4 linked regions of the Homo sapiens genome follow. The protein of the gene in region 1 interacts with the protein of each later gene in a biochemical or structural test. Each region holds a gene or a part of one and is shown in the gene's direction. Other genes may lie near its edges.

Region 1 (7,032 bases):
GGTGACTCCCGTTGTCACTTGGAGTCACGACACCATTCTCTGGCCCTGTTCCCTCATGCTCAAGCTTTCTGCATGTCTGTAAGGTATGAGGAGGTGTCAGTCTTAAGTTAGGGAGAGAAAGCAGACTTCCTCTCCATCCAGATTCTGATTTCTCTGTGGTCCACTTCTCTCCCTCTGTTCTGAAAACCCTGACTCAGACCTTACCCCTATCTCACCTTCTGGAATTAAGAAGAAGAGAAATGGTTTGAACAGAAAAGGTTCCCTGAGGGCCCTGTGCTGGGGCTCCGGGGCACATTTGAGCTGGGCTTTGAGGCATGAATAGGAGCTCACTGGGAGGCTAGGAAGAGCGCTCCAGGAGAGGGAGCTATTTGATCAAAGGCCAGAGGTGAGAGAGTCCTCAGGCCTGGCCTCTGGTGAGCTGCCTGAGGAGGTGTCCCTCTCTAGACTCTGTTCCTTCCTGAGAGTGGAAGCCAGGAATTATAGACTCTTATGGTTTATTCCCAGGCCATCGTGGCCCGAGCCAACAGTCTGAAGAATTCCGGAGTCCCCGATGACATCTTCAAGCTAGATGATCTCTCAGTCCTGGTCAGTGGCTACCCACTCACCTGGCCCCTGTGCTAGCCGGACCATTCAATCCCCACTCACTATAAAAGTCCCTGGGGCCATTGTTATCCCATTTTGCAGATGGGAAAACTGAGTCTTGGAGTGGATAATACCTTGCCTGAGGTCACTTTTGGAGTCAGATCCCTAACACAGGCACTCTTCCTCCCAAGTCCCTGGCTGTCTCCCTTTGGCCCTGAAGCCCCCTCATCTACCCCCACACCCAACTCAGTGCCCTGCCTGATCCCCAAGCTTGGCAGACGCCTGGTGGGGAGGAGACTCCCCTGACCTGGGTCTTGCCCCTTCTACCCAGGACTTGAGCCACAACCAGCTGACAGAGTGCCCGCGGGAGCTGGAGAACGCCAAGAACATGCTGGTGCTGAACCTCAGCCACAACAGGTGCCAGGCCAGTGGGGGGCAGGGGGCAGGTGGGCCCTGTGGGGTGGCTGGTGCTGACTCAGGTGGCTCCTGCTCCCCACCCGTAGCATCGACACCATCCCCAACCAGCTCTTCATCAACCTCACTGACCTACTATACCTGGACCTCAGCGAGAACCGCCTGGAGAGCCTGCCCCCGCAGATGCGCCGCCTGGTGCACCTGCAGACGCTCGTGCTCAATGGAAACCCCCTGCTGCATGCACAGCTCCGGTGGGCGCCCCCTCGGACCGCACTCCTGCAGAAGCCACCCTGAGGAGTCTGGCCGGGCCCCTTCACTTCCCAGGGCCCTAACCCTTCTCCCTTAGGCCCAGCCATCCCTCCGTGCAGGCAGCACCCCTCAGTGTACAACCTCCTAAGTATCATGTCCACCTCTCAGTCCTGTCTTCCCGCTTACACACCCCGCAACCACCCTTGGGCTTGTCCCTTCAACCAGATGTGACCTCACACCTACCCTCTGGGCCCTGTGCTTTTGGTCCTGCCCTGCCAAGCCCCACCCTTAACACTCCCTAGGTGGGCCCTGGCCCTGACCACTCACGTCACCCTGGCAGGCAGCTCCCAGCGATGACGGCCCTGCAGACCCTGCACCTGCGGAGCACCCAGCGCACCCAGAGCAACCTGCCCACCAGCCTGGAGGGTCTGAGCAACCTCGCAGGTCAGGCAGCCCCAGGAGCCCCTCTGAGCTCGGGCCCCCTCTGGGCCCTCTTGCTTCCTTGGGTGGAAGGGGTTGAACCCTGCTCTTCGGACCAATACCCAGAGGGAAAAGGCTGGAGTTATGTTACAGTGACTTTTGCGATTATGATGATGCCTTAACACTGACTTTATGCCTAGAAAACTCCCCCGCAACCCCCATGTGAGGGAGTTTGTCCAAATGGAGAAACTTGGGCGCACAGCAGTTGTCACTTGCCTAAGCCACACAGCTCAGAGGTGGCAGAGCTGGGGTTCACACTAGGGCTGGCTGCCCTGGCACCTGGTGTATGGGCCCCAGCTGATGCACCCCACCCTGCACCCCAGACGTGGATCTGTCCTGCAATGACCTGACACGGGTGCCCGAGTGTCTGTACACCCTCCCCAGCCTGCGCCGCCTCAACCTCAGCAGCAACCAGATCACGGAGCTGTCCCTGTGCATAGACCAGTGGGTGCACGTGGAAACTCTGAACCTGTCCCGAAATCAGCTCACCTCACTGCCCGTGCGTCTGAGGCCCTCAGTAGGGGGATGGGAGGAAGGCCGTGAGCCTGGCCCTGACCTCCCACCCCTGCCCGTTCCCCCTCCAGTCAGCCATTTGCAAGCTGAGCAAGCTGAAGAAGCTGTACCTGAATTCCAACAAGCTGGACTTTGACGGGCTGCCCTCAGGCATTGGCAAGCTCACCAACCTGGAAGAGTTCATGGCTGCCAACAACAACCTGGAGCTGGTCCCTGAAAGTCTCTGCAGGTGCTGGGCAGGGCTGGGGCTAGCAGAGGCACTTGCAGCACAGAGAACCCCGGGATCGTAGTCAGAGCCCACCTTGTGGTCTGTGCAAGTCAGACAAAATGAAGATGGGTTAATTCACCTTTTCTTTTCTTTTCTTTTCTTTTTTGTTTTTGAGACAGAGTCTCGCTCTGTCGCCTGGGCTGGAATGTAGTGGTGCAATCTCGGCTGACTGCAGCCTCTGTCTCCCAGGTTCAAGCGAATCTCCTGCCTCAGCCTCCTGAGTAGCTGGGATTATAGGCGTGCGCTACCACGCCCGGCTCTTTTTGTATTTTTAGTAGAGATGGGGTCTCACCATGTTGGCCAGGCTGGTCTTGAATGCCTGTCCTCAAATGATCAGCCTCCCAAAGTGCTGGGATTACAGGTGTGAGCCACCACGCCCGGCCCAGTTAACTCACCTTTGTGGATGAAGACCACAGTCCCATGCCAGCCATTCCCAACTTGAGCCCCTGAGAGCACCCTTCGGGGGGCACTGTTAGGGACAAGGCCACATGACGTGGGAACGCAGTGTTGCTTCTCTCCCCTTCTGGAGATCACAGTGCCCGTAACATGGTCTCTTGGCTCTGAGAAGTCCTTCAGGCAGAGAATGGAGACCCCCGCCAGTTCCTCTGACCCTACCTGCCTCCCCTCCCCAGGACTAGGGGTTTTCTTGCCCACTTCCCCTTGTCTGTCACCTGCCTGAGGCCCTGGCTGGCCCTGTCTTCACAGGTGCCCAAAGCTGAGGAAACTTGTCCTGAACAAGAACCACCTGGTGACCCTCCCAGAAGCCATCCATTTCCTGACGGAGATCGAGGTCAGGCATGCTGGGTTTGAGAGGGCTCAAGAGAGACAAGCAAGGGGTGTGCCCTGGAGCAAGGGGGACCCAGCAGAGGCCTCCTGAGGGAGGTGGCCAGTGCCAGGGTGCCCGTGGGGAGAAGGTGGGCCCCACCTCCCTGCATCCAGAGTACATTCCACAGTCTCATTTAAGCCCCCAGCCAGCCCCAGAGGTGGGTGGGAGGAGAACCCAGTTCCCTGACCTCTCAGCCCTGGCGGCTGCAGACAAGAGCAAGAAACTGGATTGGTGTGTCTGGGAGGTAGGACCCAGGCTCAGTGCCGGCTCTGCTCACCCTATGGGGCAGGTCCTGGATGTGCGGGAGAACCCCAACCTGGTCATGCCGCCCAAGCCCGCAGACCGTGCCGCTGAGTGGTACAACATCGACTTCTCGCTGCAGAACCAGCTGCGGCTAGCGGGTGCCTCTCCTGCTACCGTGGCTGCAGCTGCAGCTGGTGAGTGGGGAAAGGTCTGGCCTGGGAACGGGGGCTCCTCTCCAGGCCTCAAATGACACATCTGTAAATTGGGTGGCATACAGCTTTCTGGACCCTGGTGGGTGGAGTTGGCCCCTGGTTGGTCGCATGCCCAAGGGGGCAGCAGGCCCAGTGAGGGCTCAGCTGTTTGCCCCTCCCCTAAGCAGGGAGTGGGCCCAAGGACCCTATGGCTCGCAAGATGCGACTGCGGAGGCGCAAGGATTCAGCCCAGGATGACCAGGCCAAGCAGGTGCTGAAGGGCATGTCAGATGTTGCCCAGGAGAAGAACAAAAAGCAGGAGGTGAGCCAGGCCAGGGTTGGGACAAGGCAGGGAGCCTTAGCTTCTGCTGAAGGCCGACCCTGGCCTTGACCCTGGCCAAGAGGGACGGGGGGTGCTGGGCAGAAAGAACAGCTGTGCAAAGGCCCTGAGGTGTGGGTAGCAAGTAAAGACTGGCCTGAGTGGCTTCACAGAGTCAAGCCGTGCTCTGTGACTCTGCCCCCAGGAGAGCGCAGATGCCCGGGCCCCCAGCGGGAAGGTGCGGCGTTGGGACCAGGGCCTGGAGAAGCCCCGCCTTGACTACTCCGAGTTCTTCACGGAGGACGTGGGCCAGCTGCCCGGACTGACCATCTGGCAGATAGAGAACTTCGTGCCTGTGCTGGTGGAGGAAGCCTTCCACGGCAAGTTCTACGAGGCTGACTGCTACATTGTGCTCAAGGTGAGGGCTGGGCATGCTGTTAGGGGCCATGTGGCCCAGTACCTTCCTCTAAGATGGCTCAGTCCCCAACTCCAGAGTTTTGTTCAGGGAGGCCAGGTGGGAGGTGGGCAGGCTGCAGGAGGTGGTCCAGGCACAGGGGCAGTACAAAGCCCCTGGGGCTGGGAAGCCTGTGCTGTTCAGAGTGGCGTCTCCGGGGTGGCCGGAAGACCAGGATGAAAGCTGATGTGGCCGGTGCCTTGGCTTCCAGACCTTTCTGGATGACAGCGGCTCCCTCAACTGGGAGATCTACTACTGGATTGGCGGGGAGGCCACACTCGACAAGAAAGCTTGCTCTGCCATCCACGCTGTCAACTTGCGCAACTACCTGGGTGCTGAGTGCCGCACTGTCCGGGAGGAGATGGGCGATGAGAGCGAGGAGTTCCTGCAGGTGCCAGCCCGTTAAAATTGGGGGTGGGCAGAGTGGGGTTCCCAGGGAACTCTGGTGCAGGGGCAGTGGGCCCAAGGCAGGTAGGCAGAACAGGTGGGCAGGCAGGGAGCTGGGGTTAAAGGGGGTGGATCAACGATACTGTGCGGGACCTAAGGCAGACCGCAGGGTGAGGTCTAAGGTGGCCAAAGCCTGGGTCAGCAAAGGAGAGTTCTGGAACGCGGGGCAGAATTCAGCCGGGCAAGGATAAGGGTACAGGCTGGGCATGGGAGCTAGACCAGTGGGCTGACACAGGGGAGCTGAGAGTAGGGTGGAAGGGGTGTTGCCAAGAGCAGTGAGAAGGCAGGGCCAAAACCTGTTATTAGGAGGCAAGGACACACCTGGATGCCAAGGAGGTGGGGCCAAGGGCGGGACCAGAGTCCAGTCTTGAATAAATTACTGAGCAGTGTTAGCCGCCAGCTGGTTACACCTAGACATATGTTCGCATGTACACACACGTGGAGTTTATGCACACACCCCACCCGCCCCGAGTTTTTTTTACCCACATTCACCCAGGTTTCCACTCTTCCATGAACCCACTTGCTTGTGTACCCTGATATGCGTGCATCTAAACATGCTGCTGGCATCTTTACAAACGTGGGTGAACGTGTCCATATTTTTCATACATCCCAACACCCCGACGTGTGTATGTTTATAGACACAGATGTGTATGTTTTATTTTAGACAGACTCTCGCTTTGTTGCCCAGGCTGGAGTGCAGTGGCACAATCTTGGCTCACTGCAACCTCCGCCCCCAGGGTTCAAGCGATTCTCCTGCCTCAGCCTCCCAAGTAGCTGGGATTACAGGCATGTGCTACCACGCCTAGCTAATTTTTGTATTTTTTTAGTAGTGATGGGGTTTTGCCATGTTGGCCAGGCTGGTCTCGAACTCCTGACCTTAGGTGATCCACCCGCCTTGGCCTCCCAAAGTACTAAGATTACAGGCATGAGCCACCGTGCCCAGCCAGATCTGTTTTTTTTGTTGTTGTTTGTTTGTTTGTTTGTTTGTTTTAAGACAGAGTTTTGCTGTTGTTGCCCAGGCTGGAGTACAATGGCACAATCTCAGCTCACTGCAACCTCCGCCTCCCAGGTTCAAACAATTCTCCTGCCTCAGCCTCCCGAGTAGCTGGGATTACAGGCATGCACCACCACGCCTGGCTAATTTATGTATTTTTAGTAGAGACAGGGTTTCTCCATGTTGGTCAGGCTGGTCTCCAACTCCTGACCTCAGGTGATCCACCCACCTCAGACTCCTGAAGTGCTGGGATTACAGGCATCATAGATTTGTAGCACTCAATTCACCTGTATGCAACTCTGTACCCCCACCTGAGGGGCAGTGGTTGGTGGGGGAGGGGGCAGCTCAGTGATGAAGAACCACACCCTCACACACACAGGTGTTTGACAACGACATCTCCTACATTGAGGGTGGAACAGCCAGTGGCTTCTACACTGTGGAAGACACACACTATGTCACCAGGTGAGGGTGTGTGGGCAGTGGGGGGTATGGACCTGGAGTCTGCTGGCAAGGGGTGGAGGGGAGGGTGTTGGGGCTAAGTTAGGCCCTTGGTGCCTACACTGAGCCACTCTTGCCCTGCGCCCAGGATGTATCGTGTGTATGGGAAAAAGAACATCAAGTTGGAGCCTGTGCCCCTCAAGGGGACCTCTCTGGACCCAAGGTGAGCCCCAACAATGTGAGGTGGGGGTGCTTCATCCTCAGCCTCCTCCCCACCAGTGGGGGCAGGTGTGGGCCTCTTAGAAGAGGAGGCCCTCTAGCAATTCCTGCCCACGAGCTTGGCGGGGGGTCCCTGGGGCTTACCCAGAAACCCCATAGTGAGGGATTTTTTTTGGTGGGGTCAGGAGCATGGGGTGACCATTGCCCCATGCACCATCACAGCTCCTTCCTGCCCCTTCTTGTCCAGGTTTGTTTTCCTGCTGGACCGAGGGCTAGACATCTACGTATGGCGGGGGGCCCAGGCCACACTGAGCAGCACCACCAAGGCCAGGTACAAGGACACCGTGGGGTCTTTTGTGTGAAGGAAAGGGGTGTGAGCCTCGCTGATGACTTTG
Region 2 (4,496 bases), on another chromosome or scaffold:
GGAGTGGTGGGGGGGTGCCAAATCATGTAATTGCACTATACATGGAGTTTTGTGTGCTTTTTAAATTAAATTAAATTTAAACTTTTTTTTTTTTTTTTCCTGAGACGGAGTCTTGCTCTGTCGCCCAGGCTGGAGTGCAGTGGCGCGATCTCGGCTCACCGCAAGCTCTGCCTCCCGAGTTCAAGCAATTCTCCTGCCTCAGCCTCCCGAGTAGCTGGGACTACAGACACAAGCCACCACACCCAGCTAATTTTTGTATTTTTAGTAGGATGGGGTTTCACCATGTTAGCCCGGGTGGTCTTGATCTCTTGACCGCTTGATCCACCCGCCTTGGCCTCCCAAAGTGCTGGGATTACAGGCGTGAGCCACTGTGCCTGGCCGAGAGTAGGGCTCTCTTGAGGGGTGGCCTTGAGTCAGGAGTGGGCTCCAGGTCCCTGGAGCTGAGTTATCTCTGATGCTTCAGGAGCTGTTGTCCTGGGTTACCACTGTGGCCCCAAGTAACCAGGTCATCTCTGCCTTCAGCCCAGCCCCTGTGGAGGTGAATCTGAAGCTCCGCCGGCCATCCTTCCGTGATGATATTGATCTCAATGCTACCTTTGATGTGGATACTCCCCCAGCCCGGCCCTCCAGCTCCCAGCATGGTTACTACGAAAAACTTTGCCTAGAGAAGTCACAGTGAGTGATAGTCGCTGGCACTGTCCATGGGCTGGTAGGGGGATAGCTAAGACAGCTCTGCAGGCCCTGTGCTGTTAGCTCTGAGTGGCTGATGGGGCAGTGAGGGTTGCCTAGGCTTGGCCATGGCTTTGGTTCCAGCTACCTCTTGTTCCCTCACCTGAGCACTCAATCTGTGCAAACCCCTTCTCTTTTCTCATTATTCCTCACCATCACCTTTCAAGGCAAACGTATTGGAATGCAAGTTAGAGAGAATGCAGTGATGCCAGAAGGGGTGGGTCTGGGCTGGAGAGGGTGCTCCCAATACCTTGAAGGCCTGCCCACCAGAGTCCTGAGCGAGGGACTCTGAACTTCCTCTTCTATGTTTGCCTCTGAGGCTCATGCCTGAGGGAGGATCATCTCAAACCACAGAGCCCAAGGCCTTACCACCCAAGGGGGTGACCCACAGGGGCAAGCATGAGAAGCTGTCTGGAATTCCAGTGGGGCAGGTGGAACCTGCTCTGGGGTACGGTGGGACCAGAAAAAGGGAGGCTGTCTCCTTGGCCAGCTTTGCCAAGTGTAATTCACTGTGGAGACAAGGACTATACTCATTCATACAGGTACTGTTCAGGTGAGGCTGGTCAAGGGCTGGGCAGGTTTCCTCTTTTTCAAAGACTTTGTACAGAGAGAAAGAAGAGAAAGAGAAAGAAACTGAGATGCTAGACAGTGGAGGTGGAAGGGAGCAAGAGGGCAAGCCAGCTGGGCTGTCCTACCTCCCAAACCTCAGGGGGCATGGGCACCCCTGTTGTAGAGGGCGAGGCCTGGTAGCAATGAGAAACAAACCTAGGACCCGTGGGCTGTAGTCCTCAGGGATCCTGTCAGTGTCTGCTGTGTACTCTGGCTTCCTCCCATTGCCCTTCTTCCGCTGTAAAGGTTGAAGGTGGACACCTGGGGTCTTCAGGCTGCCAGGCCTTTCAGAGACATTTCCACCACCTTCATGGCCTGTGGAGGTAGTGAAGGAGGTAGTGAAGTTCTGAGTCCCTAACTCAGCTCGTCCTTCCTGGAGCCTTGGTTGTCATGTAGCCTTACCACAGGCCGTTAGGGCAGGAGCAGAGGAGTCAGTCATCAGGCCCTGATCCCACTCTTGTCCTTATGGCTTGAGAAGCCACAGGGCCAGCCTTAGATCACCATCTTCTCACCCACCAGGGAAAATGCCAGGAGAGGGTATCCAGCTGCTGGGTTCCCCAGGAATTGGATGGAAATACAGTTTCTGGCTCTGGGGCTGGGATTGGGAGACCAGGGCCTGGGGCCATGCGCTATTCTGCCCCAGGCCCTTCTTAGACACACTCTCTAGGGAGATGGCTTGGCCCTGTGTTCTGAGAGGATTTTGTGGGCTACTTTACTGAAAGGCTAACTTACTGAGGCTCTCGTGGAGGTAGTGTCCCCTCTCTGGGAAGACAGGACTAGGCCTGAGCTCATTAAATTTCTTTTGCTCGTATCAGGGCATGACTGGCTTTCCTCCCGTGGGTGGTGAGTTGATTGGGCTCTTCAGCCCCATATAGAGCCTGGGACATGGTGAGGTGCCCGAGGACTTGAGGAGCGTTGGAATTTGGCCTTGAGTGGAAGCCACAGGATTGGGACATGGTCCAGTCATCCCCAGTCATCCCTGTCTCTGCCACCCTACTGGCTGTGGCTGTCCAGCTGTTAACAGACCTGCACTTGGGGTGGGATCACTGAGGTGCCTTGCCCAGAATGCAGGCATGGCAGCAGCAGTGCCACATGGTAACTCCCCAAGGGGCGTGTGCTGAGCCTGGTTCACCTGCCCCCATGTCTTGCTTACCTACCCCTTGCCTTCTCTCTCATTCTTGTAGCTCCCCAATTCAGGATGTCCCCAAGAAGATATGCAAAGGCCCCAGGAAGGTAAGAGCTTTCTAGAAGAAGCACAGTCTAACCTTTGGCAGGACTGGACTTTTGGGAGGGCACGGTCTTGCCAGAGCCTTGTCACTCCTGGTCCAGGACTGAGGTACTTCGGAGCCACCCTTGGGATTCTACTCATTATCCCTCCTGCCTCCTAGTGAGGCATCAGAGATCCTGATCTTGTTCCACCACCACTACCCTCCCTCCTTTGCTGACATCCAGCTCATCAAGTCTGGCCCTGGGGTCTTCCCTGCAGGAGTCCCAGCTCTCACTGGGTGGCCAGAGCTGTGCAGGAGAGCCAGATGAGGAACTGGTTGGTGCCTTCCCTATTTTTGTCCGGAATGCCATCCTAGGCCAGAAACAGCCCAAGAGGCCCAGGTCAGAGTCCTCTTGCAGCAAAGATGTGGTGAGTGTGGCTTCCCACAGTGGCAGGAGCCAGCCCTCTTGGGTAGAAATGGGTGGCCAGCCCCCCAGCCCATTAGCCTGGCCCACTCATCTCTTCCTTCCACCCTAGGTAAGGACAGGCTTCGATGGGCTCGGTGGCCGGACAAAATTCATCCAGCCTGTATCCTTTTCCTGTGATGTTGAGCTGAGCTGAACTGTGGAGCCCATACTATGCCTCACCTATACCCCCAGCCTGCCAGTGCCAACAGCCTCAGGTGTGCAGTGCTGGGCCTCATTCTGTGTATCAGCGCCGCCCACCCCCGGCTCTGAGCCTTTCTTGCCCTGCATTGCAGTCCTTTCTCGCCCTGCATTGCAGTCCTTTCTCCATGCCTCTTCCTTGACAGCTCCTCCAGACTGACACAGTCATGATCCGCCCATTGCCTGTTAAGCCCAAGACCAAGGTTAAGCAGAGGGTGAGGGTGAAGACAGTGCCTTCTCTCTTCCAGGCCAAGCTGGACACCTTCCTGTGGTCGTGAGAACAGTGAGTCTGACCAATGGCCAGACACATGCCTGCAACTTGTAGGTCAAGGACTGTCCAGGCAGGGGTTTTGTGGACAGAGCCCCACTTTCGGGACCAGCCTGAGGTGTAAGGGCAGACAAACAGGTGAGGGTGAGTGTGGCACCCAGAGACTGCTCTTCCTGCCCTCACCCTGCCCCACTCCTACGACTGGGAGCTGACATGACCAGCCCACTGATCCTGTCAGCAGGTCCTGCTCCTGTTGCCAGGCTCCTGTTTATAGCCATGATCAGATGTGGTCAGACTCTTTCTGGGCCTGGAGACCACGGTCACTTGTTGACTGTCTCTGTGGACCAGAGTGCTTGAGGCATCTCAGGCAGCCTCAGCCCAAGCTTCTACCTGCCTTTGACTTGCTTCTAGGCATAGCCTGGGCCAAGCAGGGTGGGGAATGGAGGATAGCATGGGATGTATGGAGAGGATGGAAGATTTTCATGTAAAATAAAATTAAAAAAAAAAAACAATCTCTTCTTCCTGGTTCTGAGAGTGTAAATTTGCACCAACACTTTAGAAAACTGTTTGGCATGACTTTCTAAAGCAGGAACATCGCCAAGCCTCAGATCCAGCAGTTCCTTCCCTAGGCATATGCCTTCTCATGGGGCACAGGAAGACTCTAGAAAGAATGAGATCACTGCAGCTTTTCTCACAGTCTCTAACCTGGGCACAGCCTAAAGGCCATAAGTAGGAAAGTGAACGAGTAAATGGAAATCTATCTATACAGTGTACTCACAGCAAATAACCAGCGACCACTACCTTCCGTTCCTACCCACGTTTAAACGCTACCAGCCAAATTGCTAGCTTTTGACTTTTGGCTGCAAAGGCACTTTCTTTCTTTTCTTTCTTTTTCTTTCTTTCTTTTTTTTTTTTTTCTTTTTGCAACAGGGTCTCCCTCTGTCTCCCAGGCTGGAGTGCAGTGGCACAATCACAGTTCACTGCAGCCTCAACCTCCCAGGCTCAGGTGATCCTCCCA
Region 3 (7,032 bases), on another chromosome or scaffold:
AAAGATGTATAAAACATGTATTTCTAGACAAGTCCTTGGATCACTCCACATAGACACTGATCCACAGTATTATAGTAGAATATATTTCAGGTAAACTTAGCACTTCTCTGACTTGGGAATTGAGTCATTTTCTTATTAATGTTTCAAGCCACTGTTTCAATCATTTTGCCTTATCAGGTACCTACCAATGTAGAACAAGAGCAAGAAAATAACCTTTACCCAAAAGGCCCATGCCTGCCATTATGAGAGGAACTTTGGTTCATGAAAACACCAAGCACCGTCAAAAGCATTCCGTTTCCCATCTAATATTGAAATCTAAAGAAGCAATGCCGTTCTTTTCTTCCTCCAGAATGAGAGTCTACCAATTACCCAACCTTAGAGCCAAATCCCAAAATAACATTTTGTGAGGTTTCCAGAGACATCTGACAAAAGGGTTTTCTGGAGTGGGTAAATCTAGGCTTCTTGGCACCTACCTTCACAGCTGTTTACCTGGGACAGCCCTGGTTTCTCAGCTAGGGGCTACCATACCTCAGGGGAAGGGAGTATGTTCTCAGAGAAGGGGAGATATTTTCATGGCTCCCACAGACTTTGTTCTTTTTCTCTTGTCATGATTGTGTGATTACTTTTCCTTGAGACAGTTTGGCCTCATATGCAGAGAATCACTTTCTCTGGTGATATGGGATGTGACTCTGCTGCTTGCTCAGGTGCTGCCATTTTGAGCTCCGAGATCTGAACTTTCGTGCTCCACTGGCAATGGCATTTTTCTTTCACAAGCTTCACTCTGCCTACCAATGCCAACATCAGCCAATTAATATTTACTGACATTCCACAGGGAGCACGGCTCTGGGCACCTTTCATTGTTTTGCTGCCACCCACCCTCTCTCTCTGTCTTTTCTCTACTGGCTCAAAGCTCATGTCGGAAACCTTTGCCTTCACTTTAGTATAGACTTCAACATTTTTCATCATAGCTGGCCTACGTGTCATTTTATTTTCTACTTATCTTCACTTTCTCTCTCTTCCCAAATACACATATGGCCTAAAATAGAATTAACTCTCCCTGTCCCTTTCCCACTAACAAACTATAAGCAGCCCCGTTGACCTTCATCCCAATGGGGTGTCTAAGTGAGACATCTGTGGCTGGCAGGGAACTGCTCCCTGCTGTGCATTCTACTTTCTTTCTCTCTCCCTCTCTTCTTCCTGATTTCTCCTCCCAACCTCAGTATCTTTTCTCCTTTTCTGCTGTCTGGGCATGTATGGGTATTGCTCTCTCCACTGGCACTGAGCAAGATTAAAAGGCTGGGTTGTGATCACACTCACTCTCATTTTTTCAGTCATTGTTCCTTACACTTACCCCAATCATGGAATCATTATGCTTGAAAGGGAAGGTCAGACATTCGTCTAGGACTTGTTTCCAGAGAGAACTGAAACTCAACCATCTCAGACAACCAGTAATCTTATTCTCAATTCTCTCTGACAAGAACAATCTCACAGTTTGTCTGATAAACTTTTAATGGATTACTCAGGTGACGTCTAAATCCCTTTAAACTCTGACACTCATCCTGTGTTTAAAAGTTCTTCTATTTAGAAACTCATTTCCTAAGTGTAATCTTAATTAAAGAAACACATTTAAATGTTTTGTCTTAATGGAAGAGGAAAAATATTTCCCATCTTTTCTCATCTGCAGAATCTTTTAATCCAAGGAATTCTGAATCCATCACAGAGTTCAGTATCAGTGTTCCAAACCTGATGGCTCCTTTGCTGGTGGCCTTGGATTTTCTGTTCTGGTCACTTTGCTCTTTCCCATCTGTCTGTGTCTAGCCTTGTGGTTCCTTCAGCAGTCTTCTCTAATGATTCCTCATCCACTCTGTGATATGATTCAGAACTGATCATCATCTGGGTTGAGAATGCTCTCTCTCTCTGTGCTGGACCTCATTTCTCCTGTCTCCCCATCCTCATCCATTCTGCTAACCCTCGCTGGCCTTCTCTGTCAGATCCTGCCATCTGGAACAACTTAACTGTATCCTCCACCTCGTTAACTTTCCACCCCTTTCCAAATCTCACCTGCAACCATGTCCTTTCTGCTTTGCCTCCACCCCTTCATTTCATGCCATCAAAGCTAGTGCATTTAACGTATTTATCTTTCTAGCCTATCAACTTTTTAAAATAATATGCACTTAATAGATATTTCACAAAGTAAGTCTGTCTTGTTTTATTGGAGTTTCATCTATTGCTAGGGCATGGGGCATATTTCTCTTGCAAATAGAGAGACCCCACTTGAACAGGAGAATGCTGCAGCTGGGTCCCAGGCAGGTCTTGTTCTCGCGCAAGTGCTGCTCGTGGTCCAGATTGTGATGGATTTCTTGCTGTGCTTCTAGCCCATGCTTTGAGGGAGTTTACATTGAACAGTGGCTTGGACCGCTTTACTCTCCACTGGACTGAAGCTTTTCGTTTATATAACTAGTTAGAATTATCATAATGGCGCATTTATTTCTCCCCTGTCTTCCAAATGGGAATTGGATGCTAGAAATACTTTACCTCGTTCCAGGAGGTACCCATCCTCCAGAGGAAATTTTGGCTATGCCTTGTATGACCCCATATAAACAAGAAGGAGTCTACACCCTTCTTATATGATTGTAGCAGGTTAGGAAGAAATATCTGGTTCATTACTGGGAAAAGGAGGGCCAATGTAGGATAGGCATTCTAATCGATTAACTTATATACTTTTGGGAAATGTTTAGGAGGAAGAATGGAAATAAGGATAGCTAACATTTATTGAGCACTTACTTTCTGCCAGGTACTATTCTAAACATTTTACATGTACTAACTCATTTAAATCTTGCAATATTATCGTCATTATCCCCACCATACAGATGAAAAAGAAGAGGTTCAGAGAAGTTAAGAATCATTCCTAAGATCACAAGTGGAGGACAGGAGGAACCCCAGTGTTTCATTTTTGCCATTTTTTTTCTCTTCTAGAAACGGATAGAAACCATAGACCTGCCTATCTAGAATAATAAAGAGAAATTAATCAAGACAACACCACACTAATCTCTCAGCATTCCTTATGGTAGGGGAAATAGAATAGACTTAGAAATTAGAAGATATGTCAACCTTTCCTAGCTTTCCTATTTTTACTTGTGTGGCAAAAACAAACAAACAAAAAAACTGAATTTCCCCCACTAAATTTCAGTTTCTTAATCTGTAAATTAAAAATTACTTGTGAAAACTGTTTTATACTCATGTTAGCTATAACAAAATGATTTAATTTTCTACTACAGTTGATTTATTTGAAATTCTTATATTAGTAAATTCACTTTATTCTGGCGGAAAATATATAATTTGATAACTTCCCACTATTTGAGAGGAGGCAAAATACATAGTTTCTAGGGATAGGCAAGCCGTCAGTGTTTGAAACTCATCTTTTTCTCTCTTTTAGTTTCTTACCACTTTTTTGCCCATATACATGAGAATTATGTTAAATTTAAAATTAGTAACTGCTGCTTTATTAAATATACAGAAGAAAATCTTATTTGCAGATTTTTAAAATAATTATTTGTTTCAGTATCGCATATATCCAAAAAAAAAATGCACCCAGATATTTATTACATGTAGCTCCTTAAAGGATGTTACTGCACCCTTCAAACCAAGGAAACTTTGACCTTGCCATTACAAAAAGCAATAAAAGCAGTGGTCTTGGATGTCTCAGTCAATGATGACCACCTAAATTCAGGCAAAGCTCGGGGTATTAGAAAGTGAGAAAGAGCTTCTTACTAATAATTCCAACTACATTATTAAATAGCTGAATATATGAAGAATACAATAAGTTACATTTGTACTAAGGAAATTTCTATTCATTTTCAAAACAGATGAATTAGGAGAAAAGGTAAAACTAAATATCACTAAAGATATGTTGTCATCATAATAATGGAAACCAATGGAGGAAAACAAATTGATTTACAAATTATTATGCTTTTTAATAAGTTGAAATTATATGTATAATACATGTTTTGTCTTACATCTTCTTCCTAATATTCTGCCCATTTGTGCACATTAGCACACACTTGTCATAGGAAACTGTTACTGTCTCTGTAGTATTTCCTTATGTGGATAATATATCTTTAGTTTGTTTCCCAGTTTTCAGTCTAATACATGATACTGAATTGTCTTTAAAGAATTTATTTTGTGCTTTAAATTGTTGCCTTCATGTATCTTCACTTTCAAGTCTTCTGATACATATTGTCTGAGAAATGTGTTTAGGATACACGTCCCACACATTTTCCCCAAGGCTTTCTTAAGCTAATAGAGGTGGCAGAGAGAAAAACAGTGGGAGAAATAGCGTTTGGATACCGTAATATCTAAAAACCAAAGCAAAGATGAGAGAAGGAGAGGCGAGAAGCAGCCCTTCTGTTTTGTAAGTGGGTCATTGCTGACCTTTGAGAGAACAGTTTTCACAGGGTATTGATGTCCAAACCAGATTATAAGGATTCTCTGCATTAAAGGCAACAAGGGCAGACCACTCTTTTAAGAAGTCTGAAGGTGAAAGTTAGGCTGTAGATGGGCAGCAGCCTGTGGGGGTGGAGGGCGGGGTCATGGGGGATAAGGAAGGCTATTATAGGATGGGAGAAATCTGAGCATTTTTTAAAAGGATAGAACCAGTAGGGAGGTAAAATTTCAAGATGCAAACTAGAAGAGGGATGAACTCTAGAACCAGGCAAGACAGTGTGAGTGTGAGACCACGAGACAGATGGCAGCCAGCTAGAGTGAGCAAGAGGGACACTCTTGTCACAGAGACAGGAAAGCATAGGAAGAAAGACTTTGAGGTGGACATTAAGGAAATTAATCAAACTTGACTTTCTTAGTAAATCAGAAGATGAGTCTAAAATCTCCTATTTTTATGAGCACCCAATTCAGGGGTTTCTAAATTTTTCTCTCCATTGGAATTACCTTGTAACCTTAAGAAAATAATGTTGCCTGGATCCAACCCCAGAGATTGTGATTTAATTGCCTGGAAGTGTGGCCTGTTCTTTGGCATTTTAACACATTCCCCAGGTGACTTTACTGTGTTAGCTGAGTTTGGGAGCCATGGACCTAACGTACTGGCAGCTTCATAGAGATGCTACTAGATATGTTTCAGCCAGAGACAAGCCCAGGAATTTTACTCAGCTGCTAGAAGGGAGAAGCTGAGCAGATATAAGGGCTATGAAACTGCTATAGCCTTCCTGTGACTTTGAGGGCAGAGCCTGTCTGAAAATGGCAGTGGATCCAAAAGAAAGAGACACCATATCTGACTGTCATCACTTCAGCCCCTGCTCAAGAACTACCTTAAGGGAGCTCTGAGCTCTCCCTTAGACTTCTTCAGTTAAGTTAGCCATTAAATGTCTTTAACACCTAAGCCCATTAGAGCCAGGTCTTTCTGTTATTTGCAATCAAAAGAGGCCTGATACAGGTTATAACGCATTTGTGTGTATACATTTTGGTGAGAGTTTTGAAGACATAGTTTAAAAATGACAGTTGACTCAACCATTTGCTGAGTCCACTCCTGAGTTGCTCTCATTCCACAGAACTGTGTGAACACCCCTGCAAATCTGAGCCTGCAGTCCTGTATGAAGTTATGAGCGCCACTGCTAACGTAGGATTTCCAGTGGATCATTTTGTTAAGTCTTCAAGTCTGCCCTCCTTGGCAGTCCACATCAGCATAGACTGGAAGGAATGTTCCATGGGGATGGAAATGAATATTGTAATTTTCATGTGATTTTTTGTCCTTACTATTTAGGGACCTAAGGGCTAACTGATCTCTCCCTTTCTTCTCCCCTTATGCGGAAGGTTATTATATGGAGAAAATAGTTGAAAGGCAGGGTTATAAAGTTTTCTGCTTTGGTTGTATGCGGTGCAATGTTCTGAGCATCTCAGCTCTTCTCATTGCTCCCTCTTCTCTTCTGTTACTTGTCTTCTTTCAATGCTAATGGACATAGCTACTCATGCAAAGGAGTTCACCCTCATTTGTATGGTGCAGAAAGTCTGTTGCCCTAGCCCACAATGAAGAGTAGACTTCATTGGTTAAAGTCATCTTCTATGGAGCCAATTGTTAAATGTTAAAGAATTTTTTGAACTAGCTTGTAAACACAATCATTTAAAATTATATAAATTTGCAATTAAATGATATTAAAAACGGAGGTAATGAATACTAACAATTCATCATTTTCTAATCATTACTACATTTTATGTTCTGTGCTCTTGAAGTCTACTCTATCTATGTGGGAGAGCTACTCTATAATGGTGTGCCACACATCTCTTAGCAACTCCACATTCAATGACATCAAGTTGGTAGACTGAAATTGGCCATAGTGGGAGTATTTACACCAGAGACATTGATGGATGCTATAAATCAAGGCATGCCCCGACAAAGCCACTTGTTAAACATTTACCAGCACACCACTGAATAGGTACTCCTGCTCTGTGTATTCATAAACCTGTATAGATGGCTTTCATTATGCTTTCTACATTTGATGATAATTCTTTGTTTATCTGTATACAACCATCAGACTATGAATTCCTTGAAAATTAGTATCCATGCTTTACTTACCATTATGTCACTGGCAAGTACAAAGTATTTGGTACAAAGAAAATGCCCAATAAGTATCTGTCGAATGGATAATGTTAATATTTATTTATTTATTTATTTATTTATTGAGACAGAGTCTCACTCTGTCACCCAGGCTGCAGTGCAGTGGCACGATCTCAGCTCACTGCAGCCTCCGCCTCCTGGGTTCAAGTGATTCTCTTGCCTCAGCCTCCCGAGTAGCTGGGATTACAGGCACCCATCACCACACCTGGCTAATTTGTTGTATTTTGGCCCGGCTGGTCTCAAACTCCTGACCCCAAGTGATCTGCCCACCTTGGCCTCCCAAAGTGCTGGGATTACAGGTGTGAGCCACCATGCCTGGCCAAATGATGTCAATTTTTAAAGATCTCCGGGCTTAACCAATCCCACACATTTGTTTTGGGCTTGGAGTGTTTCAGATAATGCCTTTT
Region 4 (7,032 bases), on another chromosome or scaffold:
CTAACACGATGAAACCCCGTCTCTACTAAAAAATACAAAAAAATTAGTTGGGCGTGGTGGTGGGCGCCTGTAGTCCCAGCTACTCAGGAGGCTGAGGCAGGTGAATGGCATGAACGCAGGAGGCAGAGCTTGCAGTGAGCTGAGATCGCGCCACTGCACTGCAGCCTGGGCAACAGAGTGAGACTCCATCTCAAAAAACAAACAAACAAACAAAAAAAACAAAAAGCAAGAAAAACAAATGCATTTGATATATAAACTCAACACAGCATGTACATTATAGGCTTGAGAGGCCTCTATCAGTTCCCTCCAAGATAGCCGCTACCCCTCAGTATGAGGTCTCTTCTTCAAGATTTTTCCCCATACAGACATCAGCGTATATTTTACAATTATTTTATTGAGCTGGGCAGAGTAGCTCACACCTGTCTGTAATCCCAGCACTTTGGGAGGCCAAGGCAGGGGGATCATTTGAGCCCAGGAAGTTGAAACTGCGGTGAGCTGTGATTGGGGTACTGCTCTCCAGGCTGAGCCAAAGTGCGAGACCCTGCCTCAAAAACAAAATAAATAAGCTTTTTGATATCACCAAATAATGTGCACTCATGATTAAAGAGAGAGAGAACAGAGCAGAACGTCTGTATTCAAAAGTAGAAATCGGCCAGGCACAGTGGCTCACACCTGTAATCCCAGCACTTTGGGAGGCTGAGGCAGGTGGATCACTTGAGGTTAGCAGTTCGAGACCACCCTGGCCAACATGGCAAAAGCCCATTTCTACTAAAATAAAATACAAAAATTAGCTGGGCGTGGTGGCAGGCACCTGTAGTCCCAGCTACTCAGGAGGCTGAGGCAGGAGAATCACTTGAACCTGGGAGGCGGAGGTTGCAGTGAGCCGAGATTGTGCCACTGCACTCCAGCCTGGGCAAGAGAGCAAGACTCCGTCTTAAAAAAAAAAAGTAGAAATGTATAATGTATTCCCTTCTCATCCCATTTGCCAGAGTTTTTGGTGTCTACCTTTTTTATTTTTTTATTTTTACTTTTTTTTTTATGAGATGGAGTCTTGCTTTGTTACCAGGCTGGAGTGCAGTGACACAATCTCGGCTCACTGCAACCTCCGCCTCCCGGGTTCAAGCAATTCTCCTGCCTCAGCCTCCTGAGTAGCTGGGACTACAGGCGCACACCACCAAGCCCAGCAGATTTTTGTATTTTTGGTAGAGACAGGGTTTCACCATGTTGGCCAGGATGGTCTAGATCTCTTGACCTCATGATCCACCCACCTCAGCCTCCCAAAGTGCTTGGATTACAGGCATGAGCCACTGCACCCGGCTTACTCAGAATTTTTGTTTTCTCTTTCTGTTTTTGGGGGGTTTTTTGAGACAGATTCTCACTCTGTCACCCAGGCTGGAATGCAGTGGCACAATCTCAGCTCACTGCAGCCTCTGCCTCCTGGGTTCAAGCGATTTTTGTGCCTCAGCCGGCCAAGTAGCTGGGATTACAGTCATGTGCCACCATGCCCGGCTAATTTTTGTATTTTTAGTAGAGATGGGGTTCTGCCATGTTGCCCAGGCTGGTCTCAAACTTCTGGCCTCAAGCAGTTCATCCGCCTCAGCCTCCCAAAGTGCTGAGATTACAGGTGTGAGCCGCCGCACCTGGCCTGTTTTCTCTTTTGAATCAAATGGGAGCCTGTTTTTTTCCTCCAAGTATTTTGGGGATCTCTCCACGTGGATCTGCATGGATCTGCCTCATCCAGCGCCTGGGTCACGCCCCCCTAGCATCGCTTACCGTCCCAGAGGATGGTAGGCCTTGGGCCCTGGGGAGGAGTTGTCTTGACACAAGAGTGTCTGCCCTGGCAGGGCCATCCCGAGCCTCCTCCTGGCCACTGAGGTCTGGGAAGGACGTCCTCCGTTGGTGAAGTCCCTTCCTGCTCCCCAAGGATGGAGATCCATTTCCTGGTTCATCTGGAGCTCTGATCAGTACCCTGAGGCCTTCCCACCTGACCCCAGCTTCCCCTGCAGGCACTCACCATGCCCAGAGCATTTGTCCTTCAAAAGCTCATGCCTGTCACCACCAGGAATGTCTGTCCTTGGTCTGCTCGTGTGGAAGCAATCCCACAAATCCAGAACAGGTGGTGTGTTCTCCCAGACCCTGGCCTGGACTCTGCCATGAGTGACCACCACGGGCCAGTAGCCCTGCGGGGAGCCCAGCCGGCCCCAGGGCTTGGGCGGCTCACCTGCCCCAGCCAAGACGGGCTGCTTCTCCAGGCATGAGTCAGCATGGAGCTGGGAGACACTGCCACCAACAACTCGGGCCCCTTTCCTCCATGCTAGAACTGCGGAGGCCCCGGAAAAATGCTTTTCAACTGCCAGTGAGCTTCCAGGGGAGGCCCGTGCCACTCACCCCAGACGATCCGGAGGCCTGCAGGCCACAGGGTTGGGGCCGAGCGGGAGCTTCCCCAGGGCTTCTCCTCCCGGAGGACTGGCCCATGGCTCATCTTGAGTTCTCGCTTCATTTTGACCAAGAGCCCATAAAGGGCAAACATTGAGAGTGAAGACAGACGCCTCATGATGTGCACATCCCTTATGATCACTGTCACCTCCCCATCACCGTCGCCTCCTATGTCTCGCTCTCACCTCCCACTCCTCCCTCAGATCGTTCTTGATGTTGGCTGTGGCTCTGGGATCCTGTCGTTTTTTGCCGCCCAAGCTGGAGCACGGAAAATCTACGCGGTGGAGGCCAGCACCATGGCCCAGCACGCTGAGGTCAGTGGCCCGCTGGTGCCCACCCAGCCTCGTCCTCGCCCATGAGTGCCATGCCGGCCCCAGCCTAGAGAAGCTTGGGAACCCCCAGGGGCCTGGGGACATTACTTCTGTGCTTTGGTCTCTTTATTGTCCCCAAGACAGTCATTTCAGGGAGGGGCTTCAGGGCCTGAGATGATTTTCTCTCATGGCCGGTAGTCAGGGCCACATGTCATTTCCCTGTTTTCTTTTTTTTTTTTTTGCACTGAAACCTTCATTCACAAAGTTCAAAACATAAAAGCTAAAAAAGAGCAGACAGCGTGCTCTCCTTCCCCACCCCAGCTCCCACCCCCAGCCCCATCATGAGAGAGGAGCTACGGCCACAAAGTCTGAGCAGAGCTATTCCGTGAGCGTCCTCTCGCACCAGTGGAGGCTGCACCCTCCATTCCCTGCTCTGCCTCTCCCATGGATCTGGGGTCGCCGGGGTCGTGGAGGGGCCATCTTTGTTCTGTCTTGCCGCCGCAGAGCACCCCTGTGCCCAGCCGTGCCGCTGTTGCTTTAGCTGCATTGTGTCCGCAGCGACACTCAGACTCCTTCCAGGTCTTCACGTGGCCAACGCTGCTGTCCTGAGCCCCTCTCCCACATGCGGTTGTGTCTGTAGGACACACCCTAGCCCTGGAATCGCTGGGTTGGGGGTGCATCCAGCTTTAGCTTTGGTGGCTGTTGTGATGTCTGCTCGTCCCCCTCTTTGCAGCCACCAGCAGTTGTCGACGCAGGGTGGGGGACCTAGGAGGCCGCAGCAGGGGACGGCCCTGAGGCAGGGCCGGGGTCACAGTGAACTCTCTTTTTTTTTGGGGGGGGTCTCACTCTGTTGCTCAGGCTTGAGTGCAGTGGTGCGATCCTGGCTCATTGCAACCTCCACCTCCCGGGTTCAAGTGATTCTCCTGTCTCAGGCTCCTGAATAGCTGGGATCCACCACTGCAACTGGCTAATTTTTGTATTTTTAGGCCAGGCATGGTGGCTCACACCTGTAATCCCAGCACTTTGGGAGGCTTAGGTGGGCGGATCACCTGAGGTCAAGAGTTCGAGACCAGCCTGACCAACGTGGCAAAACCCCATTAGCCAGGCGTGGTGGTGGGTGCCTGTAGTCCCAGCTACTCGGGAGGCTGAGGTGGGAGAATCGCTAGAACCCGGGAGGCAGAGGTTGCAGTGAGCCGAGATGGCGCCACTACCACCTCCAGCCTGGGCAACAGAGTGAGAATCTGTCTCAAAGAAAAAAAAAATAGTTTTTTTTTTTTGGTATTTTTAGTAGAGACAGGGTTTCTCCATGTTGGTCAGGCTAGTCTCCCAACTTATGAGGTCAAGCAGTCCGCCTGCCTCGGCCTCCCAAAGTGCTGGGATTACAGGCATGAGGCACCGTGCCCGGCCCACAGTGAGCTCTTAACAGGCTATGGCCAATCGCAGCCATGGTTGGGGCGCCAGCGAAGCAGGCAGAGGGGCACCCAATGCCCATGTGTGGATGGAGGCTGTCCCTTGAGAGCAGGTCTAGGGAGGGCCCCATGGCAGGAAGACGCAGGGAAGCCCACATGGCCCTGCCCGCCTGCAGGTCTTGGTGAAGAGTAACAACCTGACGGACCGCATCGTGGTCATCCCGGGCAAGGTGGAGGAGGTGTCACTCCCCGAGCAGGTGGACATCATCATCTCGGAGCCCATGGGCTACATGCTCTTCAACGAGCGCATGCTGGAGAGCTACCTCCACGCCAAGAAGTACCTGAAGCCCAGCGGTGAGCACTGGGGGGTACACAGGCCAGGCCCCTCGGTGGAGGCCCTGGCTGCCGCTGAGCCAGGCCATCAGTGCTTCAGCTCCCTGCTTACTGTCGGTGGCCCGGGGTGTAGGGAAGCCTGGGCTTTTCCCCCGCTCCCACCCCAACCCCACTCCAGCCAGCTGTGGCTTTTGGAGCCCTGGGCCCCAAACACGGCCAGACACCCAGCTGCCCACTCGCCCAGACAGGGTACACAGGATCTCCTGGCACCTCTGCCGTCCCATGTCCTGCTCCTGCGGGACAGCCTCTGGCTGGGAGTGGGGATTGGGACAGGTTCTGTGGTCAGCAGTTCCCCAACAAGCCCTGCTCTCCTCACAGTCCAGGAGGTGGGGTGGGCGAGCATGTGTGCAAATGCAGGGGTGTGGGTGCGAGTGTACGTGTGTGAGGAGGTGAGGTAGCTGTCTGGCAAGCCCATCTGTCACTTCCCATCCGTGCCTCTGGGTATGGCCTCTGGTCACTGGGTGACTGTTTCTTTTTTTGAGACAGAGTTTCACTCTTGTTGCCAAGGCTGGAGTGCAGTGGTGCGATCTCGGCTCACTGCAACCTGCACCTCCCCAGTTCAAGCAATTTTTGTGCTTCAGCCTCCTGAGTAGCTGGGATTACAGGTGTGCACCACCACGCCCAGCTAAGTTTTGTATTTTTAGTAGAGATGGGGTTTCACCGTGTTGGTCAGGCTGGTCACGAACTCCTGACCTCAGGTGATCTACCCGCCTCAGCCTCCCAAAGTGTTGGGATTATAGGCATGAGCCACTGTGCCTGGCCTGGGTGACTGTTTCTATTTGCCCATCTGTCTTGGGGTCTGTGCAGCCCTGACGCCTGAGGCATGTGCCTGTGGCTCTTCTCATGCTAGGTATGTGAGCGTCTGAGCATTTCTGTACAGGCAAGCAGCTGTGTGTGCGTGTGGCAGGGTACAGGTCCCCAGCCAGGGTAGCAGCCATGGGATGGAGCGTGGGCAGCAGCAGGCTGGTGGGGCTTGTGCAGGCAGGGGCAGGGGGGAAGCTTCCACTCTCATCTCTGGCCCGCCCTGGATCCAGGCCCTAGGGTCCTGGCTGGCTGTGCTCCTGGAGGTGGGAGGTGGCGTCCCACAGCTGTGTCTCATGTCTTGGGTGTGAGTATGGGAAGCAAGGCTGCTCCAGGGGCTGTGGGCCCCACTCTCCTCCCCTTCTGCCCTGATGGTGGGGATGGGGGTGGGGACAGCCCCAGCAGAGAGGGCCCCTCCCGATGGGACATGAAGCCAGATGGCAGTCAGGCTCTGTGGGCAGCTGCATGTGCCCCCGACGTCCCAGCAGCCAGCTTGCAGGGAGGGGGGAGGCCAGGCCTGTGCAAGGAGGACTCCTGTCCAGCTCAGGAAGCTCTTCCAGGGGTTAAAGGCAGCCCTCCCCTCTCCCAGTCACATGTCTTCTGGTCAGCAGGAGCCAGAGGTTCCTTCCAGGCTGGGTCACTTCCCATGGTGCCCCCAGGTCCCCCAGGGCAGAAGCCGCAGCATGTGCATCTCCCTCCCCGTTCCAGCAGCTGCAGCCCTGCAGCTCTCGCCTCGGGTACAGCCTGGTGGCGTAAGGAGGAGGCAGAGTCCCACTGATACCTCAGGATCTCCTCCCCCAGCTTGCAAGGCTGGGGGGCCCACATCTGGAGGCCAGGTGCTCCTTGGGGCAGGCGGGGCTGCGGGGCCCTGATCCTCCCTGCCACTGGCCCTGACTCATGCGTCTACCCTTGAGTCACAGAGGGAGGCCCTGCCCTTCCCTCAGTCTGTGTGCCCAGACCAGGCAGGCCAAGTGGCCCATCCTGCCGGCTGGGTGCCTGTGCCAGAACCTAGGCAGTCCCTGTGGTGTGGATTTGGCTTCCCCCACCTGGCTCTTGGCCTCAACTGAGGTCCCCAGCGGCGTTGGGGTAGCCCGGGGCCCACCACCCTCCCTCTGTCCAGAGCAACTTTGCTATGCTTTCCCGGCTGCACACATGCACAGACGGCAGGGCCTGAGAGGCAGCGCCTGGCCACATCCCGGGCACTGCCTGCTTCCCCGTGAGTCTTTGGCAGGTCCCTCACACCTGCCAGGTCTAGTAATAGGACATAAAGATGAGCCACCAGCCTCCCAGTCTCAGGTGGAATTCGTGAGCTGGTGCAGGTCAGGTACCCGTGGTGGTGATGAAACACTGATCAGAATAGGCGCTCGGTGCCACTGTCACAGGAGTGCAGGAACGAATGGATGACAGGCTGGGAGCACCCAGGGTTGGGGGTCTTGGGGTCCTTTGGAAGCTCTGCCAGGCAGTGTGGGATGTGTCACCTGACGCCAGCACCCCTCCCTGCCCCACTCCCAGGAAACATGTTTCCTACCATTGGTGACGTCCACCTTGCACCCTTCACGGATGAACAGCTCTACATGGAGCAGTTCACCAAGGCCAACTTCTGGTGAGTGTGCCCTGGGTGTCCCGCCTGGGCCCCACAGCCTGCCTTCTCAGGGACAGCCCCAGCTCCCCAGAGAGCCTGC

The links.
Region 2: the proteins of FLII (region 1) and TRAIP form a complex in vitro, tested with the Homo sapiens proteins (one study listed by BioGRID).
Region 3: the proteins of FLII (region 1) and GRIP1 form a complex in vitro, tested with the Homo sapiens proteins (one study listed by BioGRID).
Region 4: the proteins of FLII (region 1) and CARM1 form a complex in vitro, tested with the Homo sapiens proteins (one study listed by BioGRID).

The regions. Positions count from the first base shown.
Region 1 is NC_000017.11:18,248,736-18,255,767, reverse strand, and holds part of FLII (protein flightless-1 homolog), read left to right. Parts: intron 1-504; coding exon 505-585; intron 586-913; coding exon 914-999; intron 1,000-1,085; coding exon 1,086-1,247; intron 1,248-1,585; coding exon 1,586-1,689; intron 1,690-2,048; coding exon 2,049-2,224; intron 2,225-2,309; coding exon 2,310-2,467; intron 2,468-3,211; coding exon 3,212-3,296; intron 3,297-3,621; coding exon 3,622-3,769; intron 3,770-3,951; coding exon 3,952-4,088; intron 4,089-4,290; coding exon 4,291-4,503; intron 4,504-4,750; coding exon 4,751-4,930; intron 4,931-6,359; coding exon 6,360-6,442; intron 6,443-6,566; coding exon 6,567-6,641; intron 6,642-6,884; coding exon 6,885-6,968; intron 6,969-7,032. UniProt on the Homo sapiens protein: Is a regulator of actin polymerization, required for proper myofibril organization and regulation of the length of sarcomeric thin filaments. It also plays a role in the assembly of cardiomyocyte cell adhesion complexes.
Region 2 is NC_000003.12:49,828,095-49,832,590, reverse strand, and holds the end of TRAIP (E3 ubiquitin-protein ligase TRAIP), read left to right. Parts: intron 1-522; coding exon 523-675; intron 676-2,522; coding exon 2,523-2,571; intron 2,572-2,824; coding exon 2,825-2,974; intron 2,975-3,082; coding exon 3,083-3,133; intron 3,134-3,365; coding exon 3,366-3,488; 3' UTR 3,489-3,990; downstream 3,991-4,496. UniProt on the Homo sapiens protein: E3 ubiquitin ligase required to protect genome stability in response to replication stress.
Region 3 is NC_000012.12:66,669,045-66,676,076, reverse strand, and holds part of GRIP1 (glutamate receptor-interacting protein 1), read left to right. Parts: intron 1-7,032. UniProt on the Homo sapiens protein: May play a role as a localized scaffold for the assembly of a multiprotein signaling complex and as mediator of the trafficking of its binding partners at specific subcellular location in neurons.
Region 4 is NC_000019.10:10,909,545-10,916,576, forward strand, and holds part of CARM1 (histone-arginine methyltransferase CARM1), read left to right. Parts: intron 1-2,639; coding exon 2,640-2,750; intron 2,751-4,332; coding exon 4,333-4,510; intron 4,511-6,862; coding exon 6,863-6,953; intron 6,954-7,032. UniProt on the Homo sapiens protein: Methylates (mono- and asymmetric dimethylation) the guanidino nitrogens of arginyl residues in several proteins involved in DNA packaging, transcription regulation, pre-mRNA splicing, and mRNA stability.